4 linked regions of the Homo sapiens genome follow. The protein of the gene in region 2 interacts with the protein of the main gene of each other region in a pairwise test. Each region holds a gene or a part of one and is shown on either strand. Other genes may lie near its edges.

Region 1 (7,025 bases), on a different chromosome or scaffold from region 2:
CAGAGCCCACACAGGATCGGACTACCCAGAACCACACCGGATGTGTGCTGCCCAAGTTTCCCCTAGTAACCAAAGCTGCCACGTTAAAACGTCACGTTTCCTTCTTTCCAGAGACAAGGATACTATCTGAACATGATAAAAAATCCATGTTCCCAACGTCTGAGATGGCTCTCCCTGAACGAGCCCTGCTGAGTCTGAGAAATTCGGCGTGGACAGCCTGGGAAGTCAGCCATAGTCACGGCCCAGCCAGAAACTCTGACAAGAATGGCTGCGCCCTGCCAACTACAACCAGCCTCAAATCGCCACTGTCCCCAGATGCTGCCAAGAGCCCCCCACCTGCTGGGCAGGACCACCCACAGCTGGATCCTCCTCAAACTCCTTCTTTGGAAGTGACTTTGGAGCCACTTGAGGAAGCCTCACTACTTAGAAAAGTCACCACTGGTCTCTTACTGACCACGGATTTTAGACGCTGGCTTCATGCCTAAAGAACTCCGGCTGTTCTCAAACTCATCCATAATCGACAAAGCTCTTTGGTTTCTGAGAATTCCAAGAGAAAGTCCTCTGCAGGCCATTTCAGAAGCAGCCTCAGGGACCTGTGAACAACGGGAGTGAGCTCAGCACTTCCGGGGACAACTGGACAGTCCACAGGAGGGCCCATCATGACGTGAGCGTGGCCTCCTTCTCTGCTGACCTGACTGTGGCAAATTAGTGACACACTGGCCTATCCTACTATGACCAAGCTCCCAACATCCGACAGGACCAGAGAGGGGACCCTGTCACACCTGCACAAAGCCCTTCATCACTGCTGCACCTGCACAGACGCAGCCCCTTATGACACCCCCATAGACACAGCTTCTAGTAACACTTACACCTACCTGCATAGACAGAGCCATTTATTACACCTGCACCTGCAGAGACGCAGCCCCTCATCACACCTGCACCTTCACAGAAGAAGCCCCTCAGGACACCTGCAGAGACGCAGCCCCTCATGACTCCTGCACCTGCAGAGACGCAGCCCCTCGTGACTCCTGCAGAGACGCAGCCCCTCATGACTCCTGCACCTGCAGAGACGCAGCCCCTCGTGACTCCTGCACCTGCAGAGACGCAGCCCCTCGTGACTCCTGCACCTGCAGAGACGCAGCCCCTCGTGACTCCTGCAGAGACTCAGCCCCTCGTGACTCCTGCAGACGCAGCCCCTCATGACTCCTGCAGAGATGCAGCCCCTCGTGACTCCTGCAGAGACGCAGCCCCTCGTGACTCCTGCACCTGCAGACACACAGCCCCTCATGACTCCTGCACCTGCAGAGACACAGCCCCTCGTGACTCCTGCAGACGCAGCCCCTCGTGACTCCTGCAGAGACGCAGCCCCTCATGACACCTGCAGAGACGCAGCCCCTCGTGACACCTGCACCTGCAGAGACGCAGCCCCTCATGACACCTGCACCTGCACAGGCACAGCCCCTCATCACACGTAAACCTGCAGAGATGCAGCCCCTTGTCACATATGCACACAGTGGCAGCATCTCTGACTGTGGTCTCTAGATATAAATCTATAGGATGTCTTTCAACAAAACCCCAGCACAGCTGAGTCTCTTGGAGGTGTAGGCTGAGTTTCCAGAACATTGAGGAGAAATTCGGTGACTGCCACTTTTCAGTTGAAGCATCTGTTTTTAAACTTATCATAATTGAATTCCAAATTCTTTTCCATAGTAAATAATTCATGTTTTTAAAATTATACCTTTCTAAAAATAAATTTAAAAGTTTCATCATTTCTGAGGTGTGCTGGTTAATTCCATGTGTCAAATGACTGGGCTACGGGCTGCCCGGATAGCTGGTAAAAAATTATTTCTGGGAGTGTCTGCAAGGGTGTTTCCAGAAGAGACTAGCCCTCCTCCTGTGGATGGGCGTCATTCAATCCACTGAGGGCCTGAATAGAACGAAATGCAAGGAAGGGTGAACTCGCTCTCTCTGCTTGAGCTGAGACACTCGCCTTCTCCTGCCCTTGGACATTGGGCTCCTGCATCTTGGGCCTTCAGAGCTGGACCAGGACTCACATCAGTGGCTCCCTGGTGCTCAGGCCTTTGCCCCTGGGCTGAATTACACCACCAGCTTCCCAGGTTTTCCAGCTTGCAGATGACAAACTGTGGGACTTCATGGCCTCCGTAACTGCACGAGTGAATTCCTACAATTTATCTCCTATATATCTACACGTCTCCTATTGCCTGTTTCCCTGGAGAACCCTGACTAATCCATGAGGAAAGAAAACAAGGAAACACTGTGGAGGTGGCTGCATGTAGACATCCCATCCTGTTTCCCTGCAGACCATCCCAGAGTGGCATCTGCCCCAAAGACCCCATTTTACTCCCAAGGAGAATGCAGGCAATGAACCAAATGGTTGTCTTTTCCTCAGCCCTATATGATTTCAGTTTCACAGTGGGCAGGCAGGGAAAGCACCCAGGAAGGGGCCGACCCAGAGGCTCTACCTGTCTCTGCAGAGCAAGCTCACCGTCGAGCTCCTCAAGTTTTCTCTCCAGTGTCCATTTTAGATTTTCATACTGTTCCCGGTGGTGGTCAATCTCACCATTCTTGTCACTATGGTAATAAAACAGCATTAAGAAAAGCCATACCAAATATTCAGCAAAGGTAATACATTTTCAAGGTGCACTTGACATGTGAAAGTTGGTGCTTTGCTTTTATGAAGGGGTGGCTTCAGCAGGACCCACGGGGTAGCAGAACTTCCAGCCCCACCTGGACCAGCATGCTACACCCATCTATAAAAGAGGAAATTAAATAGGGCCCAGAGTCTCACAACATAAAACCCAAAATGTCCAGGATACAATTAAAAAAAAAACCTGACAACCAAAAACCGGAAAGATCTGACCAGGCCCAGTGGCTCACGCCTGTAATCCCAGCACTTTGGGAGGCCGAGGTGGGCGGATCACAAGGTCAGGAGATCGAGAGCATCCTGGCTAACACGGTGAAACCCCGTCTCTACAAAAAAATACAAAAAAAATTAGCCGGGCGTGGTGGCGGGCGCCTGTAGTCCCAGCTACTCGGGAGGCTGAGGCAGGAGAATGGCGTGAACCCGGGAGGTGGAGCTTGCAGTGAGCTGAGATCGTGCCACTGCACTCCAGCCTGGGCGACAGAGCGAGACTCCATCTCAAAAAAAAAAAAAAAAAGAAAAAGGAAAAAAAAGAAAGATCTGAGCTTGAAGGAGAAAAGATAATAGGTAGATGCCAACACCAAGATGACACAGACGCTGGAATTCTTCAACAAGGAAGCTACAGCAGTCATTATAAAAGCGCTTCAAGTAATCTAGTAAAGCAAATGGAAAAACAAATCTCAGCAAAGAAAAAGCTATAGCAGGCTGGGTGTGGTGGCTCACGCCTGTAATTCCAGCGCTTTGGGAGGCCAAGGCAGGTGGATCACCCGGGGTCAGGAGTCCAAGACCAGCCTGGCCAACATGGTGAAACCCCATCTCCACTAAAAATACAAAAATTAGCCGGGCATGGTGGCACACACCTGTAGTGACAGCTCCTCGGGAGGCTGAGGCAGGAGAACCCCTTGAACCCCGGAGGCAGAGGTTGCAGTGATCCGAGATCGCGCCACTGCACTCCAGCCTGGGCGACAGAGCAAGACTCTGTCTCAAAAAAAAAAAAAGAGTGTGAGACTGAAAAAGTACCTGAACATGGCTGAAAACATCCCAGGTTTGGAGAGAAGAATGAGCAAAAGACTTGAAGAGACACTTCACAACATAACGTAAAGCACTTTTAAAAGGATGCTGTAAACACTCTGGAAAGCAGCTATGAGAAAGTCAGCACCCGCACGGCGGGCAAGTGGGCCTCAGCTGTCCAAGCACTGCACGCACCTGCACGGACTCGGCGCCCAGACGAGGTGCAGGCTGAGCACCAGCCTTCATGCTGGGGACGGGAGCTTCCAGACACCCTCCCTCCACTCAGGGAGAAGCTGACCTCCAGCTCAACTCTCTCTTTCCCTGGACACTGGGCAGGTGGCACACGGGTGTCTACCACATTAGCAAGCAGCACTGCGTGGGTCAAATGACTGCTGACTGGCACTTTTTATCCACGCCGCGAGATGCGATAGAGAGAGGGACCATCAACACTGTGGGCTTCCCAGAAGACGGTGGCGCTCAGGGTACATCTGCTGCAGGGACTGCAGACGCGATCCCTGCGGGCTGCTACAGGAGATACTGGCTGCACAATACTGGTTGGGGCTTCTGAGCTAGAGGGGCACCACACCCACCAATGTGGGTCTCCTCTCCTTGCACCTGACCTGCCGCAGAAGGTCTCTCTGCTGGACCGGAGCACCTGGTGTGGTCCTGTTGGCCCGTTCACACCCATCTGAGACCCTTCTGAGCAAACCGGCCCAACACACACAACAGAGGGTAGCTGGTCAGTTAAAAGGGCGTGGCAGAACCCAGCGCACTGACACGAAGGACAGACACCACAAATCGATCAGGAAGTGCTGGACGCACATTTCGGAGCAGTGTGCGCAGGTGGCTCTATATGGGGCCTGGAGATGACACAACAGATTGCCCGTGGCGGCTTTCACTTCGCCATTCCACCACAGTATCTTCTCTGAGAAATGACTTTCTATGATAAGAATAGTTTACTCCTGCGGCTTTAAAAAGTGCTTTAAAAAGCTGCTTATGGCCAGGCGCGGTAGCTCACGTCTATAATCCCAGCACTTCAGGAAGCCAAGGCCAGTGGATCACCTGAGGTCAGGAGTTCAAGACCAGCCTGGGCAACATGGCAAAACCCCGTCTCTACTAAAAATACAAAAGAAAAAAAAATTAGCCGGGCGTGGTGGTGGGCACCTATAGTCCCAGCTACGTGGGAGGCTGAGGCAGGAGAATCACTTGAACCCGGGAGATGGAGGTTGCAGCGAGCCGAGATCACGCTACTGCGATCCAGCCTGGACAACACAGCTAAAAACTCTGTCTCAAAAAAAAAGAAAAGAAAAAAAATGCTGCTTATGTTAGAAGAATACATAAAACATAAAAAAAGTACCCAGGATCCTGTTAAGTGTAAACAGAGCATGCAGCCGGCTCTCCTAACGTCTGTACACACGCATCACACAGGAAGGGCCTCTGTTAATGTGCTATGATGAACCTGCGGTACTTCTGAAGTGGGGGATGGAAGAGCTTATCAGAGAAGCCTGTCCTCCTTCCTTCCTGTCTCCTCAAACTCTCCACAGCATGGCTGGGTGAGTGGAGCTGAGGGGATACCAGGCATGTGGTTGAGTTCCAGGGGCCCCACCACAGGCCCCACAACAAAGGCTTTAGGTTTTTATGTCGACTTGCCTTAAGTCAGCTCATTTAGTTTTGAAATTACTACAGACTTCCATTAAAATCATTATAAATTCAAATATGTATTAATATAGATTTATAATTAATGAAATAAATTCCAAATATTAAAACCAATCTCCATTAATTTCAGAGTTATATCAGAACCCAGAAAAAGACAGTCAGGGCATTCCTGGATCCATCCACATTAACTCAACAAACACATGTTCAGAGGCCACGAGGCACTCGGCCACTCAGACAGACCAGCTCCCGTGGCCTGGAATCAGCAGCGGGAGGAGGGGCAGTGAGAGTGGGCAGTGCTCGGGCAGCACAGCGGAGCAGGAGGCATGTGGGGGCCTCTGCCAGGCACTGCACAGGAGGGCGCGTCGGTCGGTGGCTCACCTGTGGACGCGCTCCAGCTCCAGGCGATGCTCCTGGAATGCCAGCTGCTGCTGCTGCTGCAGCTCCTCCACCTTCCTGGCCTCTCTGGCTAGCGCCTGCCTCAGCTTAGCTGCCTCTATCTTGAGCTCGCTCACCTCTGCCCGCCTGGCCTCTTCCCACTCCCTGGCCTGGGCGAAGGCGGCGTCATAGCGCTCCAGCTCGAGGTCCCGCTCCTCCAGCACCTGAAGGTTGTAGACAAAGTCCTCCTGCAGGCACCGCAGTTTCCCCTGCGCCTCCTCCAGCTGGCTCCGTGTGTCCTGCAGAGCCGCCTCCTGCAGCTGGGTGCGGTGTGCCTGCAGCGCCCTCCACTCCTCCTCCTTGCGAAGCAGCAGCTCATTCAGGGCGGGCTCTGAGCCCAGTGGCAGCATGGTGGCCGCTGCAGTAAAGAGAAATCAGGTTCAGGGTGCACCGTGAGGGGCCCTAATTTTCCTACCACAGTACCTACCTCACATTCCCTATCAACAGTTACCACGGCCGGGCACGGTGGCTCACACCTGTAATCCCAGCCCTTTGGGAGGCCGAGGCAGGCGGATCACCTGAGGTCAGGAGTTCAAGACCAGCCTGGCCAACATGGCAAAAACCTGTCTCTACTAAAAATACAAAAATTAGGCCGGGTGCAGTGGCTCACGCCTGTAATCCCAGCACTTTGGGAGGCCCAGGTGGATGGATCACTTGAGGTCAGGAGATCGAGACCAGCCTGGCTAACATGGTGAAACCCCGTCTCTACTAAAAATACAAAAAATTAGCCTGCTGTGGTGGCACGTGCCTGTAGTCCCAGCTACTCGGGAGGCTGAGGCAGGAGAATCGCTTGAACCCAGGAGGTAGAGGTTGCACACCAGCCTGGGTGACAGAGCAAGACTCTCTCTCAAAACAAAATAAACAAAAAAAAAAGGCCAGGCATGGTGGCTCACTCCTGTAATCCCAGCCCTTTGGGAGGCCAAAGTGGGTGGGTCACCTGAGGTCAGGAGTTTGAGACCGGCCTGGCCAACATGGTGAAACCCCGTCTCTACTAAAAATATAAAAATTAGCCATGCATGGTGGCGCATGCCTGTGATCTCAGCTACTCGGGAGGCTGAGGCAGGAGGATCACTTGAACCCAGGAAGTGGAGGTTGCAGTGAGCAGAGATCGCACCATTGCACTCCAGCCTGGGCGACACTAAGACTCTTTTCTCCAAAAAATTAAAAAAATAAATTAAAAAAAAGAAATCCAGGGGAAGTAGAGGAAGGGAAGATGGGAAACATGGTTTGTCCAGCTATAAGAGCTAGGTTCTATAAAATA
Region 2 (7,623 bases):
ATGCTCCCTCTCACATCCTCTCACCATCCATAGATTCACTCACTGTGCTTCTTGTCTGATTACAAGGGAATTAAAATGTACTGGGGATGGGGGTACCCCAGGGTCCTTCTGCAGCTAAGAGACCAAATTAACCATGTCTAATTGCAGCTGGGTGGAGAGCCAGCTTTCAGAAACAAGACTCTAAGTTCTTCCCCACCCCCTCTCACTTTCCCATTTTCACGCTTGAAATCCCTCAACTGGGTAAATTCTTCCCGGTTCAAACTTGTTGTAAAGGCGACTCTCATTCCTTTTATAATCTCTCCACAGATCCCATGACAGGTTCTTTCTGCCAGCACAGCTTCTTCTCCCCCAACCCCCGAGTCCTTTCTGCAGAGCATGTTTGAGAGGCGGGGGGCACGGTTTAATCCTAGGGCTGTTTTGTGGGTGGCTGCTCAGAAACCCCATTGAGGCCTTGAAAAGGGGCCTTGGAGATTTAGACTGAATACAGGGCTGAGGAGGAAGTTTTAAGTTGCCATGGAAACTTCTTGTTTGATGTTCGTGGGCCCAGATAAGCTGTTCTAGGCGCCCATGGGCTTGGAGAAAGGGGGCAAAAATGAAACAAAAGCTGTTTGGGGAGGTTATTTTCTGCACACTGCAGCCCAGCCCACTATAGATGCAGGAAAATTCTCCACCTCCCTGTCAGGACTGCCTCCCCTGGTCTTCCCTGTCCCCCTTCCTTTGGGTTCCTCTGGTTCCCAAGAAATCAGAGTTAAAAGGGGATGGGAGGGAAGACAGGAGGGGTGTGCCCAGCCCCTGGGCTTCCCCCTTTGATGCCCCAGCTCACCAGGGGGCCGAGCAAGTATGCAGATCCCCAGGCCCCTGGCTTCCCAGAGTCCTTCCTTTTGGAAGAATAGGAAGACCTCCAGGGAAAGCCACACAGAAGGAGGCAGGAGACAGCGACTGTGGCTTGAATTATGCAATTACCTGGAGTAAACGCCTCAAAGGCTTGTTTGTTCAGAGGGCCTCTGTTTTCCCATATTCTGATGACATAACTGAGCCAGATGTGATTCCTAACTAACTACAGTTGTTTGGGAAATGTTGCTCTTTCTCACATTTTTAATTCTTAGAGTCTTTTTCTGATAACAAAAGTAATATATGCTAGGGCCTTTTTTTTTCTTTTAACACCGCAAACATCACAGAAATGCAGTGACAAAGGAGAAGGGCCTGTAATTTTACGCTGTAGAACAATGGTCCTCAAACTCTTTAATATAAATGAGCCCCCAGAGAGGTATGTTTAAAATCCAGATTCCATGGTGGCTTCATTCCTGTGATCCTAGCACTTTGGGAGGCTGAAGCAGGAGGAACACTTGAGGCCAAGAGTTCAAGACCAGCCTGGGCAACACAGTGAGATCTCATTTCTAAAAAAAATAAAAAATTAGCTGGGTGTGGTGGCATGTGTCTGTAGTCTCAGCTACTTGGGAGACTGAGGTGGGAGGCTCGCTTGATCCCAGGAGGTCAAGGCTGCAGTGAGCCATTATGGCACCACTGCATTCAGCCTAGGTAACAGAGTAATGCTCTGTCTCAAAAAAAAAAAAAAAAAAAAAATCCAGATTCCTAGGTTCCTCCCTAGGAAAAAAAAAAAGCAAGAGCATTTTTAGCACTCATTTCAAATGACATCTAGTAATAGTATTTGAGATACACTGATCTAGAGTTGACCTCTGCTAACAGATTAGTGTATTTGCCTCCACACTAGTTCTTTATACATATACCAACTTTTTTATCTTGAAAAAAAAAAGAGATCCTACTACATATGATTTTTCATTGAATATGTAGAAGACATCTTTTTCAGGTCAATACATAGACATGTTTATTGGCTGCATCTCGTCTTGGGGTGTAGCATAGTCTCTTGCTGATGGAGTGTGGCCTGGGAAAGGGTGGTGGTTGGCCGCTGATCTCACGTACAGTTGCACCTGCACATGGACACACAGCAAGATGGTGCTGTAACAAGCTCAGCGCTGTCAAGGTTTTCGGTGTCTTCAGGTTAACAATAGTTATTGAGCCCCTCAGTACTGGGACAGGAAGATAGGTAGGTACCTGCCCTGGGGCTAGCAGTCTGATGGGTTTGTATACAAGTTGGACTGTGAGAAGAGTTTTTGTGGGAGAAGCACAGTGACTCCCAACTGCCCACGGAAAATGACGCCCAACATCCGAGGACTACTGCCCAGTTCTCCTTGGCTGTCAGGTGCGTGTTCCTCTGAAGTGTACCAGGTGATGGGCTTCTGTCTTCTCCGGGGATGAGCAGGAGCTGTCAGAAGTTCCCCCGCTCCAGGATCCTTCTTACTCTCCAACTGTTAGAAGGCACTGGGATTGGTTCATCTGAGCCACCAAAGACCCTAGGAAATATTCAAAATACTTCTTTGCAGAGCAGGAGGATGTGTGCAAGGAACCAGGGTCAGCAAAGAGTGGTTTGACAAGAATCTAGCTGTCCTCTTCTACCAGGAGAGTTTGGGGAAGTTAAGGCAGAGCAGGGTGGGAGGCTGAGGGGGCTACCATTCATAGTGCCTCAAGAAATGCAGAATTGGGGAAGAAGAAAAAAAGGGACCACACATTGTTTCCAGAAAATTGTTTTATACCCAAGAATTTAGGACCCTCTTAGTTTAAGTGGCTCGAGAATGGTCAGCGTGGCCAAGACTCCCTGGACATGCCTGCCCTGTCCCTCCCACTCCACCCCTGTCTCCCACCTCCCTCACTCCCAAGATGGCACCCAGCCTGCCTTTACATCACACCAGGATCCACCCAGTCTGGGCCTTTCCACTGGCTCTTCCCACCCTACGAAGACTCTCCCATGTGTACAGACTTCACACAACTGACTCCTTGTGATTCTGCTACCCTAAAACACCACCCGCTCTCACCTCACCCAGCCTTGCGTTCATCACGGCATTCCTCACTGCCTGACGTCATCCTGAATGTCCCCTTCTTTACTGTGTGTCCCCCTTGAAGGTAGGTTCCCTGACAGCAGGGATATTACCTGTGTCATTCACATGGTACCCCCAGCACTTAGAACAGTGCCAGGAACACAGTAGGAATTAAATAAATGTTTGTTAAATGAACAAATAATATAGGCCAAAGAAGACACAAGGTTGCCTTGTTAAAGCCTCCATTCACCTGTGATGCATGTCCTAGGCCTCATCACCTTCTAGCCAACCAAGACTCCATGAGAAAGTAAAGTTGGGGTGGAGGCCTGGTCTAACTGGTAGACCCCAGCTTCCTCACTGGGGAACTAGGATGACACTAAACGATAGAAAACACTTCCAGCTTTTCAAGTGAAAGCTGATTCTGAAATTAGGAGAATGCCTCCATTATCTATAAGCATCCAGGCTGGCCTTAAGGATCTACATACATTTTTTACTTTTCTTGGGTTTTTTTGTTTGTTTGTTTTTTGGGTTTTTTTGAGACAGTCTTGCTCTGTCACCCAGGCTGGAGTGCAGTGGCCCAATCTTGGCTCACTGCAAACTCTGCCTCCCAAGTTCAAGCAATTCTCCTGCCTCAGCCTCCCAGGTAGCTGGGATTACAGGTGTGTGCCACCACCCCTGGCTAATTTTTGTATTTTTAGTAGAGACAGGGTTTTACCATGTTGGCCAGGCTGTTCTCAAACTTCTGACCTCAAATGATCTGCCTACCTCAGCCTCCCAAAGTGCTGGGATTACAGGCATGAGCTACCATGCCTGGCCTACTTTTATATTTTACATTCACATGTTCATTCATTGAGCCACTACTTATGGAACACATATTCTGCCAGGCAAAATGCACCATGCTGGGCTCTGGCCTCAGATCACGTAGAGTCCAGGTCTCTCTTGGAGAAAAGTCCTATATGCTGAGCTTTGACTATGTGCTTCACTAATGTCATCTCATCCATGTCATCTCCCAACCACCCTGGTATGCTCCACATTTGACAAACACAGAAACCAAGACACAGAGACACTGAGTGGCTGCTGAAGGGGCTGGTGCTGGAGCCAGGGCCAACACATGAGCCTGCTGAGACCCAGACACGGTGCATCCCCTCTCCCACGCTCTTCCGTTGGCTCCTCTGTGAAGTTCCAATGACATTCAAGGTATCAGGAAAACGCTGTGTACGGAGTTTCTGACCCATTCGTGGATAATTAAGAACTGACCCAATGCTGAGCAGTTTCCCCTCCCTTTACACCCCACCCTTTTCCCCCCAGAGCCATTTTCTCCTGAAGAATCCACACCACTGCCTCAGGAAGCTTGGCTTCCCCTCCCATGGGGAAGTGCTGGAATCCACTCTTGCCTGACCCTCCCATAAGAAACAAGGGAAATTCCTTTACGTGAGCCGCCTTGCTCAGAACAAAGCTTGGCGTGTTTCTTATTCCTCATCAATCTGACAAAATGGGTATTTATTTGTGCCTCTCAAGCGTGTGGCTTGGACATGATGTTCCGCATCGTGGAAGTGGCCGTGCACCAAGTGGAATATCTGTTACTATAGTAACAGTTCCTTTTTATTGATACCAGAATAAACAGGAATGCAAAGGCTGTCTCACTTGTTGGCACATTTCAGCAGCCTCCGTTCCCAGGGGTTTAAGAACCGCCCTCTAGAGGCAGCCCTCCTTGCTAGTCTGGGACTTCCCGGTGGAGTGAGGAACCCAGCAACACGCTCCTGACTTCCCTTCCCAAGGACTCGACCTGAGAAGTAAGACCATCTCTGTTCTGTTTCATCTGCTGTTGAGAGCGGTGCCGTTCGGGAGGAGGTGGAAGGGAAGGAGGGCAGACCCGGTACACTGAAGTGGGCTGTCAGTGGACCTGAGTGCTTTGAGTTTAGGTACCCGGGCTATGTCCCAGCATCCATAAAATGATACGGGAGATGCCTCCAGGCACCCTGGGTTTCGGAAAAGGGTAGGAGACAAAGAAGCGAGCCCCCTGGCATAGCCCTGCATTCTTGTTGATCTTTTTCTGCTGCATCCTCAGGTGAATCTGAATTAATGCATGATATAGCCTCACCTAAGTCAATTATCACACAGTATGGGGGTTTAATTCTCAGCACAACAGACAGAACACAGATTTCAGCTTCAGAGTTTGGCTCAGATTCAAGCTCTTTCCTTCACCGGCTGTGTGATTTGGGGAAATCAGATGACTTCCCTGAACTTCAGTTTCCTTGACTGTAAAAAGAGGATAATAACAGTACCCACCTCTTCAGTCTGTCGTAAGAATTTCATATTTCATGAGATATGGCTGCTAGGTGCTTAGCACAGTGCATGGCACATAGTGCACGCAGGTTAACGTGTGAAGGGCCTGCCTTTCTGGTGAATTTGGCTTTAGGACTTTGCAATACAAGGCAAGTCTGAGATTGGGCCAGAAATCAAGAGCTGTAGGATTGGGTGTGTCACTTTTTGAAACTGCTACCAAACCCAAGTAGCTTTGAGCTTCAAGGCAGCCCCCACGCCTGCATCTCTGGGTGGCTTAGATCCTGAGTGGCCCTCTTAGTTCTGTTGGTGGTGAGTACCTGCTGGAATTTTCCCTGCAGAGGCATCTGCCAGGTAAAGTGGCTGACATCATGCCACTAATGAGCCAGCAGGGATTCCAGGTCTGCTGATGCTTGTTCCAGATCAACTGCACAATGCTGTCCACTAACCTTGCTAAGTATCCTCCATGTCTAGCCCTGGACTCTGCTATTTAATTGGTTCAAAATCCTAAATGTCCACCCAACATTCTCCTTCCGAGGTAGGAAGTTGCAACGGACCTGAGGCAAAATGTTCAGGAAGTCAGCCTTGAGTCATTGCATCCAAATGGACAAGCAGCTCTGCTGGGGGCTTCCGAGCATCGACCAGAAGCTGCTGGGAGATCTGGAGGTGGCTCCGAGATACACTGTTCTTTGGCTGCTGGCCAGTGAAATACAAATAGGCACTTTCCCCATGGAGAGGAAAAAAGCCAGAAGGGTCAGGAAATCCAGTGACCGTGCTTGTCACTTTTACTGAATGCCTGTTTTTCCTTTGCCAGTCGTTATTTTGAAAGCCTCTCTTCTCCTCTGCCCTGGCATCCCATTAAATGCTGAACCAAGAGGGTTCTGAATGTGTTCGGAACCCAGCAGCTTGAACAGTAATGAGGAAGTGGGGGCACAGGAGGGAAGGCCACCAGCTGGTCCTCTCCTAAACAGAGACCAGCCTGAGGCCAGACAGGCCCGTGGACTCTAGCTTAAGCCCAAAGCTGCTAGGGCCAGGCTGGGGCTCCCCAGTGAGAGTTTGCATTTCACGTAGGCTAGGAGTCCTCAAGTTAGCAGGCCTCCATGTTCTTATCTATAAAATGGGCTCACACAGCCTCTTCATTGGGGTTTCTTGACTATCTAGAGAGAGAAAAGGGACATAACCCTGCTTTGTCAACTAAAAGACATTTTGCACCTTGAAGACAGTGGAGAGGTAGAAAGAGCATTGAATTTGGCGTCCAAGGTCCTGGCTTTGCTGCTTACTCTCTGTGTATCGAGACAAGTAGCTTGGCCTCTCTGAGCCTTAGTTTTCTCATCTATAAAACAGGGTACCACTGGCTGCCTCCAAGGGTGATTTAGAGATCCAGATCAAATTCTAGTGGTGACCACAGGGTTTCTTCAGGACAGAAGTACCATAGTTTGTCTTCGGTGAGCATCACTCTGCCAGGCGCTGGGCTAAGCACATCATGCCATTGTATCACTTCACCCTCCAAACTGCTCCATGAATAGGCTGTTATCCTTGCTGTATAGAGGCTCAGAGAGGTTAAGCTACTTGCCCAAGGTAACACAGCTGGGAAGGATTGCCACCATGAATCAAACCCACTCTGTCTCCACTAAAACATCTGCTTTAACCATTGCTTTACTGGCTTATGTGTCATTTGTTACAACTGATGCCATCGAAGACAGAAACATGACTACCAGAACAGTGGAGAGGCAAGTGGAAGGGACACTGAGGCCTTAGACAGCCTGGGGTCCCATGGCTATTGTCAAGACGAACTGGGCCCCGAGACTCCATCAGTGCAGCTCTCCTTCTGTCTCTCCTTACTCTCTCCTGTGGCTGCAGGCACCAGTGTTTGGTTTCAAATCTGCCACCCTGCATTAGCCATGCATGCCCCAGTGGCCCGGTGCACTCTCCGTGGGAGCAGCAGTGATCTCTGCTGAGCCTTGCCTGGTGTGGGGCCAACATCCTGTGGAGCCTGTGGCAAGGAGCTCTGGGACCTCTTGGGTCACCAACAGAACCAGGGAGGAACCAAGCAAGGGGTTCCAAATCTTTCCTCAGACCCCTTATTATCCCCACCCCAGGAAAAACAACATCAGTCCCATAAACTGCATATTGAGAATTATTTGCCATCCTATAGTCATGCAAGACACTCAATAGCTGTCGCCTACTGGTGGCCTCCACCCCATGCCCAGCTCTTTAGCTCATCCAATCTTCACAGCATCACAATTCTACAGAGGAGCATCCCAGAGGTTAGAGACCATCCCAAGATCACACAGCTGCTAAGAACTGTGACCTTAATCAGATTTGCTCACAATAACCAGGCCAACTACAGTCAGCTGAGATCCTTCAGGACCGAAGCAAATAAGTTTGTGTTTTGGGTTTTTAACTCCATGGTTTGCAAAGTTGGCTGACTCTAGGAATCACCTAG
Region 3 (7,025 bases), on a different chromosome or scaffold from region 2:
TTAAAGAAAAATTTTAAATAAAATGCTTCTGATAGCACCATGTAGATGTTCCAGCTTTCACTTCTGCAGTTAACCATCTGTAGCTGCTTAACTCTAGCTCCTACTGAGTTCCAGTTCATGAAAAAAAAGTGTGTGTATATATATATATAGTCTCCTGCAAGAGACTATATATATATATATATAACTTACATATATATATATATGTATATATATATATAAAGTTTCCTACAAGCCCCTGAGCTGTGTATTTTGTGAATCATAGGACAAAGTGATATGTCTGCCCCATATGTGAAAAGAACATCTGGCTTAAAAATACAAAATAAGTTTATCTCTAGCAAGGGTTATGCATCTGTGTGTCTATTGGTAGCTAAGACCAAATGTTAGTGCCACTGTTATTCTTTTCTTCTCTGGGTCCTGTAAACATTAGGTTTATTTGTACGGGAAAGAAAAGAATCTAGCTTACGTTGCATTGCTTAATCAGCTTCTCAAAATGAACTTCATTTGTGATCTCAGTGAGTCATTATGGCATAATTACAGTTCTAGCATGATATGCTAGTTGTTGAAAAATGTTGATTTTTTTTTTTTTTGTGGAACAGAAAAACTACAGTTCAAAAACTGTGATCAGGCAAGTCAATGCCATGATTAACTGATATTAACAGATGCCCTGAAGATTTAAAATGCTTGCTCTCTATTTCAAGAAAGCAGCCGAGAAGAAAATGCCTAGCAGGGGTTAAACCCAAATGCCTGCACTGCAGCCTATTTCTGTCAACACTCTGTTCAGGAAATAAACATTTATGCTTTCTGAAATGAAAGTGTATTTTTGAAGACTAGCCGTCAGATATTTTTTGCCCTTCACACTTTCAAATGCTTAGCCTTTTTTGTAAGTTGACTGCAAAGTGCATCAGTTTGCCAGGCTAAAAAAAAAAAAAAACAAAAAAAAAAACAGTGCTTGATGAGTGCCCATGGCACCACTGTCAACCTCCAAAGTTTCCAGTAGAAGAAGGCAAGACGGTTGGCACAAAACATGCTTTCTTCAAGCCTATTACCTCAGGGGTACCTGCCTCTTGAGAAGCTTTTCAATCCTTCCAAATGATGTTATTCCCAACTGTCATCTGGTTTATTTGGAGCACACTGTATTGCAGATAAACATGCTATTTAACTGCGGGTCAAGGTAGAGAGTCATTCTGCAAGCAAAATGCCTGAGATACATTAAATGGCACTGACTCTGGGACAGAGATGAAGAGAGATCCGAGTTGTCAGCGATATGCAGGGAATGGGCTATAGCTGTGGAAGAAAAAATGTGCCATGGTATCAGTGCATTTTAAAAAGCTGTAATATGGCTGAACATTTAAAACTATAACCTGTCACACACCAAAGATTAAGGTCCCAGGATGTACAAAACATGAAGTTCAAACGACACAACTGCAAAGCATATTTTATTTCACTTGGGAAAGAGGTTTCTCTCCAAAGATAGCTAAATATTACAGATGATGAAGACCTCTAACTTGTAGCCCAAGAGCTATAAACTACCATTAAATACCTGGTATAAACATAAACAAGTAATTATCATTTGGATACAAGCATGTGTAAGCCAATAGAGCAATTATGTTTTAAGAAAATTCCTTAGACTCAGCTTATTAAAACATGCATTTTCATTTAGGCCTTGGTTATTTAGAATTTTATACATTGTTCAGGTCTATTGATAAAAATGTTATTTTATCCATGCGTTTTTATGTATGTGCAACGTAGCTAGTACTCCTAAAGAAAAGGTAAAATAATTTTATGGAATTAAGATAAAATTTCTATTATGTATTTGGTCTCCTTAGTGACCAGATGAACATGACTATCTTATAACAAGGCTGTCTTAACTGCTGCTCAGGCATTTGGGCAGGAGAGCTCTTTGTACTAGCTTCCAGATTGCAGTGGTGTGGTAGGAAAGGGGTAAAATGAGAGCCAGCAATTTCTAGACCAAGAAAAGATAGAAGAAGTTCAGACTTTTATTTTATTTTGTAAGGCATAGATTGTCCTTTTTCCTTTGGATTTGCAAAAAGTATACTTCCTTTAATCAGCTGAAATATACTTGAGGATATCAATCAAGCAAATGTGTCAAACCTTTTGTGCTATATCCGTCTCCTCATGCTCCCTCACCAAAAAAAAAAAAAAAAAAAAAAAAAAAAAGGAGAGCTGTTTCTTCCCCTTTTTTCCTTCTCTTTATTTCATAGAGAAGCAAAAGGAAAAAGTTAGGTTTGCAGGAAGGATAAACACACACACATGCACACACATATACACACACACAACCATCAATATAGAAGAAACAAATTGCAGGATCAACTTTAAAAATGAAATTTTATTGTTTTTTGTTCAATTAAACCCCAAAGAAATGTGCGAAATGTTGTTATGGCTGTAACATTGTTAATTTGTAAATCACAGGGACAAAGGGGGCCCGGTGCAACTTTAAAGTTTCCGTGCACGTAAATGTCGCTAGCGTGCCTTCTCCATCATCAGCACTAAATTCACATTGATGCCTCTTTTCTTCTCCGTATTGATCCTTCCATGAGAACGTAGATTTGTATCTGTTAATTAATGTGTCCTGAAACAGCGTTTGTATTAATCAGGCAGATAAGAAAAATTGGATGCCTGCACCCCCCTGACAACCGTAAAAGTGCTGGCCCTGATAAAATCGTGGATGGACCTCAATAAAAAAGTTCCTCCTTCCACTCAATAAACTAATCATCCTGCTTTTAATTATTCGGCAGAAAGATGTGTGGAGATTGGAGAATGTGTAAATCTATTTACTAACAGCAGTGTCTGGGAGGGAGAATAGGGCTGTCACAGGAAGGTGCTGCGGGCTACACGCTCTGTCCATCTGCTGCTGCAGAGAAACTGCGACTTGGGAGCATGAAAAGGAACAAGAAAACTAAGGCAAATTGAAAAGACCCATTCATTTTTGCTCCTAACTTTCCAGATGATTTTTTTTTTTTGGTATTTTAATTTACACAAGAAATTCTTACTTAGTATGTTTTCTTGAGATTGATATTTGGATTTGCATTGCACCTTTTTTCCTTGGAGGGGAATAGAAAAAAGAGCAGTGTGGTTTTCTGTTTGTTTGTTGTGAATATAACATTGCTAAAATTAAAAGCATCTGGAGCCTAACCTATTTAGGTTAAATAATTTAGTTTTCTGTGTTGAACCGCTGTTTAAAATGTTATCAGCTATTATATCTCTAAGAGGATATTTATTAATTTAACCCCAAATGCAATGACAAAAGCAGAATAAGAAACAAGACTTACACAGCCAGTCCAAAAGAAATCCTGTCAAATAACATGTAAGCACCATGATAAACAACGAAAGAAATGCATTTTACACATATCTTAAAGATTCCCTTAAGAAAAGCTTGACTCATCTCTTCTGATGATTTTATTAAGCACTTATAATTAATGGTACCAAATGGCAAACCACTGTTTTTCACCAATAGGTCAGGAAATCCTTTCCTTTTCTTTACTGTGCTGTAGTTTCTAATATCATATGGGATACCCACAATTTGATATGATTGAAAAGGACAGCAACAGTGACCATAAGCAGCAGCCTAAAAAGGTTGGGCATCAGTGGCTACTTATGATTTGGATAATAATGTCTAGAAAGGGAGTAAAAATAGATTTCTTAAGTTGCATTATTAAAAATGGTCCTTCCTTTCTGTAGAATTACTGGTGGCAGGACCTTAAATGATGGTACCACTGTCCTCAGAAGCCATGAGGTGGATGGTTACCCTTAGAAGTCTTAGGCATACACTTGGAAATAAAAGTGAAGTTTTAAGAAACATTTCTTTTTTAGGACTTGAGAAAAGCTTCTGATCATCAGGTATCTTCACTTTAGAATACAGATCTAGTCCCTCTGATATATAAATATATATCTTCACTCCTAAGTAGGCTTAATTGTACTGCTTCCTCTTTCTCTATTGAACAACATTTTCTTTTTAATTTTTTTGCATATGTTTTCTCAAGCTCAGAGGGACTTTAAATATGCGTGTATGAATGCATCCCAGATTTGCAGAAAAGAATTGATCACATAGGTAATTCAGATAAAAAGAACATATATTAATCATACAACAACACTTACTGAATTTCAGGTTATAGCTTAATGTTTAGGTAGGTGATATTTTATATTTCCCAAATACGAAATTTAAGAGACAAGTTAATTTCTCTTGCTCAAGGTGAAAGAGCCAGTAGCTAAGTGGAGCCAGTATTTACATTCAGAATCTGACTCCTTTGCACCAAACCCTGTTACCTTTATTTATATTTAACTTTTTAAATAATTGGAGCTTAATAACAATAGTGAACGAGGCTTTTCTCTTTGGTGGGGAGGCCAGGCTGCTACATATTACACTTTCTTTTATACCTATTATCACTAATTTTAAAAGAAAGTCATGTTAAATATCAGTGGGGAGAAATAGCCAATTAAGAAGGCTCACCTATTTGTAACTCATCATCCATTGTGCTTGTAATTATTAATATTATACAGAAATGTTTCCAAGTTGTGCTGAGCTCTATGGCCTAAATTGTTTGTTTACCTTTTATTTTTAGCTGCTTCTTCTTCTCCTTCTTCTTCTTTTTTTTTTTTTTACTTTTATGTTGTTTACCAATAGTAGTTTTTAGAGATGAGATAGTTGAAAATCTGACTTCCTGTAAGATTTTCCTAAAGACTTCAACCAGAAATCAAGTATATTTAAAGATTACATGGTATTTTCTTCTCGAATGAAAGAAAGCGACATCTCTATTATATTCCCCTAAGCTGTGTCTATAAAACTTATAGCAAATACCCACAAATTGAAGAAGCTGGTTTGTGACTTTCACTTTGCTGTTCGCAAAGTGATCCAGGGAAAATTTTAAGAGCTTCTAATCAAAGCTCAGCATAATTTTGAGCACTGATGCAGAAGCCAGCTACCATATGAAACTAATGTTGCATTATGAAATTATGGCTTTAAAGTAACTTGATCTGCCCATCTTTCCATGCAGGCTTCTCCACGCTGTCCCTGGCGGACCAGATGAGCCTTCTGCAGAGTGCTTGGATGGAAATTTTGATCCTTGGTGTCGTATACCGGTCTCTTTCGTTTGAGGATGAACTTGTCTATGCAGACGATTATATAATGGACGAAGACCAGTCCAAATTAGCAGGCCTTCTTGATCTAAATAATGCTATCCTGCAGCTGGTAAAGAAATACAAGAGCATGAAGCTGGAAAAAGAAGAATTTGTCACCCTCAAAGCTATAGCTCTTGCTAATTCAGGTTGGCATACTGACATAGTCATTGTTACATTTTTTTTAATATGTCAGTTTTACCCCTCTCCTTAACTTCTTTAGGGATTTGCTAGACCTGGTTTGTAAATTTTGTATGAGTCAGCAAAATTATAATCAGTATAGCTTTCTAGTGAAAAGTTAGAAATAAGAAAAATATACTTAAAGGGAATTAATTTCATTTGACTTGCTTATTGAATGCTTTGAAACTTTTATCAACTAATGCATGTACTAATTTGGATCATGGCAAAGCAAAAGCTCTTGTAGTAATAGCATAAATGGACACTCCCAGGACAAAATTATTTCTATTGTATTTTATGCGTAAGTTAAAACAAGGGAATTGTTGATACACACAAACCATTTTTCCCTCAAAAATGCAAATTGTGCAATTGGGAAAATATATTTAGTGTTGCTTTGAGTTTTGGTTATCAAAGAACAGTTTTCTTACATTCTGGAGTTCTTTAGAAGTCAAATTCTGCCTATGCAGTAAGGGTTAAGAATTATGGGAATAACTGGTCTTTACATTCGAACTGAAACATGCTAAAATAGCAACCTCTAATAAGTAAAAATCGTTGGTGCTTTGTTGTTTTTCCCTTTGTGCCTCTCTTAATGCTTTATTATGGTCTTAAGTCTCTTTTAGCATTTGCATAAAGTTCAGGATAGATCCCTCCTTAATGACGTGCCGATCATTAGATACCTGCGTGTCAATAACGTGCTCTGATGCTATGTACCACTGACAGTCACACCGTGCCCCTCCATCTGCTTTTGTTTTGACCCTATCTTTGAACTTTATCTTGGTTGCCGGCCAGTAGTTTTCCCTTTAATTACAAGAAGGAAACTGTCAATAAAATCTGTTAAATGGGATGCAATGAGTGGCTTGAATGGGCGGACGGCTATTTGTTCAAATTCTGCAGCATTCAAGGTATTGACAGTTTGTTTTCTGGGGCCATATGTGACGATCAATCTCAGGCTGGGCTCAGCCGCGCTGAAAAATGAAAAACCAGATTGCTTTTGCTTACTTGTGGATGACGACTTTGTGATTTGGCGCGGTCCTAGTGAGATGAGACCTTCTGCCCAAATTGCCCCCATGAGAGCCAGGGACGCGTGACTGTTTTTAGAAATAATTTTTAATTGATTTTGTAATTAACAGTTCATCTACAATATTGATGCATGAATCCTTAGACTGATAGGAGGGAAATTGTTTTCAACAATGGAGTTGTACTTTCCTATTTGTCTTCATAATGCAGTTTAGCATTTCACAGTTTTAATTGTGAATATAACCCTCTTCCTCACCACACCATGCACCTCTCTTCTTCTACGCTCCTGTGAAATTATAAAATATGATTTCTTATGACAAATGACATTGTTATTATGAACCCTGAAGAATCCCCTGCCCTCCCTCTCCAGAAGATCAAAGTGAGAGATGGGGTAGAAATTTTCTGAGGATTTATTAGTTTGTATGGACTTCACATTATACCATCTCTCATAATGAGATGAAATATTTTATAACAGTGGTTTTGGGAAGAATTTTTATTTGGCAATCATGAAACGATTCTAATTTAAAACATTTACTTGGTTAATTGTTTTTAAAATATACTAAAGCCTGTGTTAAATCTTTTATGTTTCAAATTGCTTTTAAAAATTATTAACTAACCATGAATGCTGAGCAATGCTAAAACTTTATCAACAAAATTGCTAAAAATGTATAATTTTAGATATTGGATGTGTACTTTAT
Region 4 (7,025 bases), on a different chromosome or scaffold from region 2:
CGAGGTAGGTGGATCACGAGGTCAAGAGATCGAGACCATCCTGGCCAACATGGTGAAACCCTGTCTCTACTAAAAATACAAAAATTAGCTGGGCATGGTGGCATGTACCTGTGTCCCAGCTACTTGGGAGGCTGAGGCAGGAGAATTGTTTGAACCCGGGAGGGCAGAGGTTGCAGTGAGCCGAGAGAGCGCCACTGCACTCCAGCCTGGCGACAGAGTGAGACTCCGTCTCAAAAAAAAAAAAAAAACTTGAATGTTGGCCTGAGCGCGGTGGCCCAGGCCTGTAATCCCAGCACTTTGGGAGGCCGAGGCGGGTGGATCATGGTGTCAGGAGTTCGAGAACAGCCTGACCAACATGGTGAAACCCCATCTCTACTAAAAATACAAAAATTAGCTGGGCATGGTGGTGTGTGCCTGTAATCCCAGCTACTCAGGAGGCTGAGGCAGGAGAATCGCTTGAACCCAGGAGGCGGAGGTTGCAGTGAGCCGAGATCATGCCAGTGCACTCCAGCCTGGGTGACAGAGCGAGACTCTGTCTCAAAAAAACAAAAAACAAAATAACAAAATGAGGAAGTCCAAGATTTTGGTTGTGTATGCGAGAGTCCAATAGCACATCTACAGAGCATAGTTGAAAACTGCCTTGTTCACATTCCCCTTCAATTATTTATTTTCCTGAGAAAATCAAAGAGGTCACATGCTCTTCACCTCAAACTTTCTGTTTCAGCTGGGCGCAGTAGGTAGCTCACGCCTGTAATCCCGGCATTTTGGGAGGCTGAGGTGTGTGGATCACCTGAGGTCAGGAGTTCGAGACCATCCTGACCAATATGGTGAAACCCTGTCTCTGCTAAAAATACAAAAATTAGCCAGGCATGGTGGCATGCTCCTGTAGTCCCAGCTACTCGAGAGGCTGAGACAGGAGAATCACTTGAACCCGGGAGGCAGAGGTTGCAGTGAGCAGAGATGGTGCCACTGCACTCCAGCCTGGCGACAGAGCGAGACTTCGTCTCAAAAAAAAAAAAAATTTCTGTTTCCTTATTCTTGCCTAAGGAAGATACATATGCCTTTGTCAAGAGTATTATCCGTAACACTTAAATAATTTTTTTCTAGTCACACAGCTCACAATTGATGGTACTGGATTTGAACCCATTAAGTTCAAGAACTCTATAGCCTGTTCTTTGTCACTGTACCATGCGCAGAAGACCCAGTTAAATATGATGTTAGTTCTCATACTTCTAAAACTAAGAGATTCACTCTTTCTTGGCCTTCTTTCTTCAGCTGTAGAATTCAGATATGATTTGCTTTACAGGGTGGTTATGGCATTAAATGAGATAACCTAAGGAGTAATTCAGAAATTATGAAATACTATATCTACTTGTTTGTAAGGTGTTATTTTATTGTTAAAATAGCAACTAATACACATTAACACTTACCCATGTTTTAATAAACAGTGAAACTGATGCTAGATAAATTAAGTAATTGGACTCCGTTATAGTTAATTAAGTGGTAGAATCTGGATCTGGGCGCATTTCTTTTGATGAAGGTCCCATGTGCTTATGGTCTCTGGTTGTTACCTTATGCCTCATTGATTCTGTATTTTTTCATTGTTACATCTTCTTCCTCCTGCCCCTTAAATGCATTTATTTCTTAATTTCCTAAGATCTTGTTGCTGTCGTTCTCTACTCTGAGGTTTCTGGGAGTATTCACCTACTTTGGGAAATTTGATTTACTTTAGCAGCTTTAGCTATCATCTCTGTGTGTATGGCTCCTAAATCTATTCCTTCAGCACTGACTTTTGGATGTCTTGTCCTTCTAGCATCTTGAACTTTGTTCAAGATCAGATTATTCATATTATTTTCTCAAACCGATTCTAAGTTCATTCTTTTTGTTCTGTTCTGCTAGTCACTCAAACTGGAAACTTTATACCAATGATTTTTTTATTTTTTATTTTTTATTTTTTTTTGAGATGGATTCTTGCTCTGTTGCCCAGGCTAAAGTGCAGTGGCGTGATCTTGGGTCACTACGACCTCCGCCTCCCAGGTTCAAGAGATTTTCCTGCCTCAGCCTCTCAAGTTGCTGGGAGTATCAGCGCACTCCATGATGCCCGGCTATTTTTGTATATATATATGTATATATGTGTGTGTATATATGTATATATATAAACATGTATATGTATATATGTGTGTGTGTGTGTGTGTGTGTGTGTATATATATATATATATATTTTTTTTTTTTTTTTTTTTTTTGTAGAGATGGGGTTTCACTATGTTGCCCAGGCTGGTCTCAAACTCCTGACCTCAACTGATCTTCCCTCCTTGGCCTCCCAAAGTGCTGGGATTACAGGCATGAGCCGCTGCCTCTGGCCTATACCAATGATTTTTAAGTGCAATTAGTTATTATCTCCCTGTTTCACTTATATTTGTCTTACCCTTCTGTTTTTATCATTACCATGCTAATAGAGAAGTATGAACATTGGTTACCTCATGCTTAGATTATTTAATTACTTTCTGTCTGATCTCTCAGGTTTGAGTCTTTTCTTATCTCCAGTCCATTTTCTGTCCTGCTACTATATTAATATTTTTCACTGATATCTCTTTCTTTTCCCCAGAAGCCTCAGAAATGTATTATGTAAAGGATAAAATCCAAGAATGTTAGCCTTGTGTTCAGACCATCCAGATCTGGTTCTGACCTTTCTTTCTAGGGCTGTCTTGGTTCCTGAATGCACTAATCATTTGTTCATTCATTCAGCAAATATTGATTGCTTGCCTACTTGTTTTCAAGCCAGTCATTTTTTATTAGGTATAACTGACATGCAGTAAACTACACATATTTAAAGTGTACAGTTTTTTTGTTTGTTTTGTTCTTTTTTTTTTTTTTTTGAGACGGCGTTTTGCTCTTGTTGCCCAGCCTGGAGTGCAATGACGCGATCTCCGCTCACTGCAACCTCCATCTCCTGGGTTCGAGTGATTCTCCTGCCTCAGCCTCCCAAGTAGCTGGGATTATAGGCATGCATCACCACGCTTGACTAATTTTGTATTTTTAGTAGAAACAGGGTTTCACCATGTTGGTCAGGTTGGTCTCAAACTCCTGACCTCAGGTGATCCACCCACCTCAGCCTCCCAAAGTGCTAGGATTACAGATGTGAGTCACTGAGCCTGGCCAAGTGTACAGTTTTGACATATATGTATTCTTGTGAGACAATCATTGCATCCAAGTTAGTGAATATATCTGTCATCCCCAAAAGTTTCCTTGTGCCTCTTGGTAATTCCTCCCTCTACTTGCCTTGTCCCCAGGCAACCATTGATCTGCTTTCTGTCACGATAGATAAGTTTGCTTCAGAGATAAGGGGGATGGAAAAAGAGAAAAAAGATAAGTTTGCATGTTTTGGAATTTTATACAAATGAAAATCATACAATATGTACTCTTACGGATCTGGCTTTTTTTCACTCAGCAAAAATACTGTATGTATCAGTAGTATTCCTTTTTATTGCTAAGTAGTATTCCATTGTATGTATTTACCACAATTTGTTTATGCATTCACCTGTTGATGGGCATATGGCATGTTTACAGTTTTTGCTATTACAGTGAAAATTGCTGCGAACATTCGTGTACAAGAAGCTTTCTTTTCTCTTGGGTAAATAATTAGTAATGGAACGGATAGAGATTATGTGGTAGATGTGTGTTTAACATTTTGAAAATTGCCAAGCTATTTTCTAAAATACTTGTATCTGGGAGCTAAACAATGAGCATACATGGACATAAAGGGGGAAATGCTAGACACTGGGGACTTCAAAAGAGGGAGAGGAGGAGAGGGATGAAGGTTAAATTAAAAAAAGGATTGGGAGGCCGAAGTGGATGGATCACCTGAATTCGGGAGTTCGAGACCAGCTTGACCAACATGGAGAACTCTGTCTCTACCAAAAATACAAAATTAGCCAGGCCTGGTGGTACATGTCTGTAATCCCAGCTCCTTGGGAGCCTGAGGCAGGAGAATCACTTGAATCCAGAAGGCGGAGGTTGTGGTGAGCCGAGATCGCACCATTGCACTCCAGCCTGGGCAACAAGAGCGAAACTCTGTCTCAAAAAGAAAAAAAAGGAAATAGTTTTATAATTTTACATTCTCACCAGAAGTTTATGAGAGTTCCAATTCCTCCACATTAATGCTAACAGTTGGTGTGTTCGGTTTTGTGAATTTTAGCCATTCTCAGGGACGTGTAGCCATTCTTACAGGTATCTCCTTGTTTTAGTTAGCGTTTCTCTGTTGAGTAATGATGTTAGCATCTTTTCCAGGAGTTATTTACCATCCATATGTTGTCTTTGGTAAGGGGTCTGTTCAGTGCCCCCCATTTTGTGCTAAAATAAATATAACAAAATTTTCCATTTTACCCATATTTAAGGGTACAGTTCGGTGTCTTTAATTACATTCATAATGTTATACAACCATATCACTATTTCCAAAATCTTTCATCACCCCAAACAGAAAGTCTGTACCCATTAAAAAAAAAGAAAAAAGAAAATAAACATAAGTAAACATAGAAAAGGTATATTAAAAATACAGTATAAAAGATAAAAAATGGTACACCTATGTAGGGCAGCTCCATTCTAATCTTACGAGACTACTGTAGTATATGCGGTCCATCATTTACCGAAACATCTTTATGTGACACATGGCTATATACCACTTTTTGTTTATCCTTTTTCTTAAGTTTTTTTGTTTTTTGAGACAGAGCCTCGCTCTGTCGCCAGGCTGGAGTGCAATCGTGCGATCTCGGCTCACCACACCCTCCACCTCCGAGGTTCAAGCGAGTCTGCTGCCTCAGCCTCCCGAGTAGCTGGGACTACAGGTGTGCGCCAGTACACCCAGCTAATTTTTGTATTTTTAGTAGAGATGGGGTTTCACCATGTTGGCCAGGATGGTGTCGATCTCTTGACCTGGTGATCCACCCTCCTTGGCCTCCCAAAGTGCTGGGATTACAGGCGTTGAGCCACCGCGCCTAGCCTATTTATCCATTTTTATCTCTTGATGGACACTTGGGTTGTTTTCACTTTTTGGATATTGGATATTGTTAATAGTTCTGTTGTTAACAATTATCTGTTTGAGTTCCTGCTTTCATTTCTTTTGAATATATATCTAGAAGTGAAATTGCTGGGTCATATGGTATTCTGTTAATTTTTTTTTAATTGTGGTAAAATATACCTAATGTAAAATTAGCCTTTTTTTTTTTTTTTTTTTAAATGAGACAGTGTCTCACTCTGTTGCCCACGTTGGAGCACAGTGACACAATCATGGCTCACTGCAGCCTCAATCTCTTGGGCTCAAGCAGTTGGCCTGCTTCACACTCTTGAGTAGCTGGGACCACAAGTGTGTGCCATCGTGCCTGGCTAATTTTTTTATTTTTTGTAGAGACAGGGTTTTACTTTGTTGCCAAAGCTGGCCTCAAACTCCTGGGCTCAAGTGATCTGCCTGCCTTGGCCTCCCAAGTGCTAGGATTACAGATGTGAGCCACTTGGCCCAGCCAAATTTGCAATTTTAACTGTATTTTTAAGTGTACTGTTTAGCGGCATTAAGTACATTCACATTGTTGTGCAGCCATCACCACTATCCACCTTTAGTACTTTTTCATCATCCCAAACTGAAACTCTGTACTTGATAAACAATAAATTCTCATTATTCTCTTCCCCCTAGCCCCTGTTAACCACTATTCTACCTTCTGTCTTTACATTGACTATTCTAAGTACATCATATAAATGGAATCATAAAATATTTTTGTTTATTTCTACCTCTCTATTCTGTTCTATTAGTCTCTATTTCTGTTCTTATGGTAGTACCACACTGTTTTGATTACTGTAGCTTTGTAGTAAGTTTTGAAATTAGGAAGTGTGAGTCCTCCAACTTTTTCAAGATAGTTTTGACTATTTGGCATCCCTTGAGATTCCATGTGAATTTTAAATGCAGTTTTCTACCAATATAAAAAGTACCATTGGAGTTTTAGTAGGGATTACATTGATTCTGTACATGCCTTTGAGTAATATTGCTGTCTTAACAATATTAAATCTTATGATCCTTGAACATGGGTGTCTTTCCATTTATTTAGGACTTCTTTAACTTCTTTGAGCAGTGTATTGTAGTTTTGCACGTATAAGTCTTTCTTTTTGTTTTTTATTGTTTTGAGACAGGATCTCACTGTCACCCAGGCTGGAGTGCAGTGATGCGATCATGGCTCACTGCAGCCTCAACTTCCTGGGTTCAAGAGACCCTCTTGTCTTGGCCTCCCAATGCTGGGATTATAGGTGTGAGCCACCACACTCAGCCTCCATGTATGTCTTTCAAATTCTTGGTTTTTTTTTTCCCTAAGCATTTTATTCCTTTTGATGCTGTTGCAAATGTGTTATTTTCTTAATTTCGTTTTTAGATTGTTCATTGCAAGCTTATAGAAATGCCAGTGTTTTTTGTGTGTTTGTCTCCTGTAACTGTTGTGTTTATTAGCTTTAACAATATTTTGTGGACTCTTTAGGGATTTTTACAGATAAGATCATGTCATCTGCAAAAAGATAATTTCACTTCTTTTTTAATTAGGATACTTTTTATTTCTTTATCTTGCCTAAGTACTCTGGCTGGAATTTTTAGTACCTGTATTATGTCAAATAGAAATGGTAAAAGCTGGCATCCTTGTCTTTTTCCTGATCTTAAGGGGAATTTTTCCTGATCTTAAGGGGAAGAGTTTTTAGCCTTTGAATCGTTGACTATGATTTTTATGAGTTTTTATATATGGCCTTTATCAAGTTGAGGAAGTTCCCTTCTATTTCTATTGAGTATTTTTATCATGAAAGGATATTGGATTTTGTCAGATGCCTTTTCTGCATCAATTGAGATGATCATAGTGGGGGTTTTCCATGAAGTGGTTTATTACATTGAATGATTTTTGTAGTTGAATCATCTTTCTATTCTAGGAATAAATCCCACTTGGCCACAGTGTATAATTTTTTAAATAGTCTGTTGAATTAGTTTTATTGGGATTTTGTTGAGG

Evidence for each region.
Region 1: the proteins of FAM107A (region 2) and CCDC57 interact in binary tests that used the Homo sapiens proteins (3 or more experiments, as listed by UniProt).
Region 3: the proteins of FAM107A (region 2) and ESRRG interact in binary tests that used the Homo sapiens proteins (3 or more experiments, as listed by UniProt).
Region 4: the proteins of FAM107A (region 2) and TRIM37 interact in binary tests that used the Homo sapiens proteins (3 or more experiments, as listed by UniProt).

What each region holds. Positions count from the first base shown.
Region 1 is NC_000017.11:82,195,831-82,202,855, forward strand, and holds part of CCDC57 (coiled-coil domain-containing protein 57), read right to left. Parts: intron 6,123-7,025; coding exon of another isoform or gene 6,115-6,122; coding exon 5,708-6,114; intron 2,595-5,707; exon of another isoform or gene 2,593-2,594; coding exon 2,484-2,592; intron 1,267-2,483; exon of another isoform or gene 1-1,266. UniProt on the Homo sapiens protein: Pleiotropic regulator of centriole duplication, mitosis, and ciliogenesis. Critical interface between centrosome and microtubule-mediated cellular processes. Centriole duplication protein required for recruitment of CEP63, CEP152, and PLK4 to the centrosome.
Region 2 is NC_000003.12:58,574,373-58,581,995, reverse strand, and holds the start of FAM107A (actin-associated protein FAM107A), read left to right. Parts: upstream 1-4,604; 5' UTR 4,605-4,687; intron 4,688-7,181; exon of another isoform or gene 7,182-7,623. UniProt on the Homo sapiens protein: Stress-inducible actin-binding protein that plays a role in synaptic and cognitive functions by modulating actin filamentous (F-actin) dynamics. Mediates polymerization of globular actin to F-actin. Also binds to, stabilizes and bundles F-actin.
Region 3 is NC_000001.11:216,517,409-216,524,433, reverse strand, and holds part of ESRRG (estrogen-related receptor gamma), read left to right. Parts: intron 1-5,012; coding exon 5,013-5,282; intron 5,283-7,025. UniProt on the Homo sapiens protein: Orphan receptor that acts as a transcription activator in the absence of bound ligand. Binds specifically to an estrogen response element and activates reporter genes controlled by estrogen response elements.
Region 4 is NC_000017.11:59,096,874-59,103,898, reverse strand, and holds part of TRIM37 (E3 ubiquitin-protein ligase TRIM37), read left to right. Parts: intron 1-7,025. UniProt on the Homo sapiens protein: E3 ubiquitin-protein ligase required to prevent centriole reduplication. Probably acts by ubiquitinating positive regulators of centriole reduplication.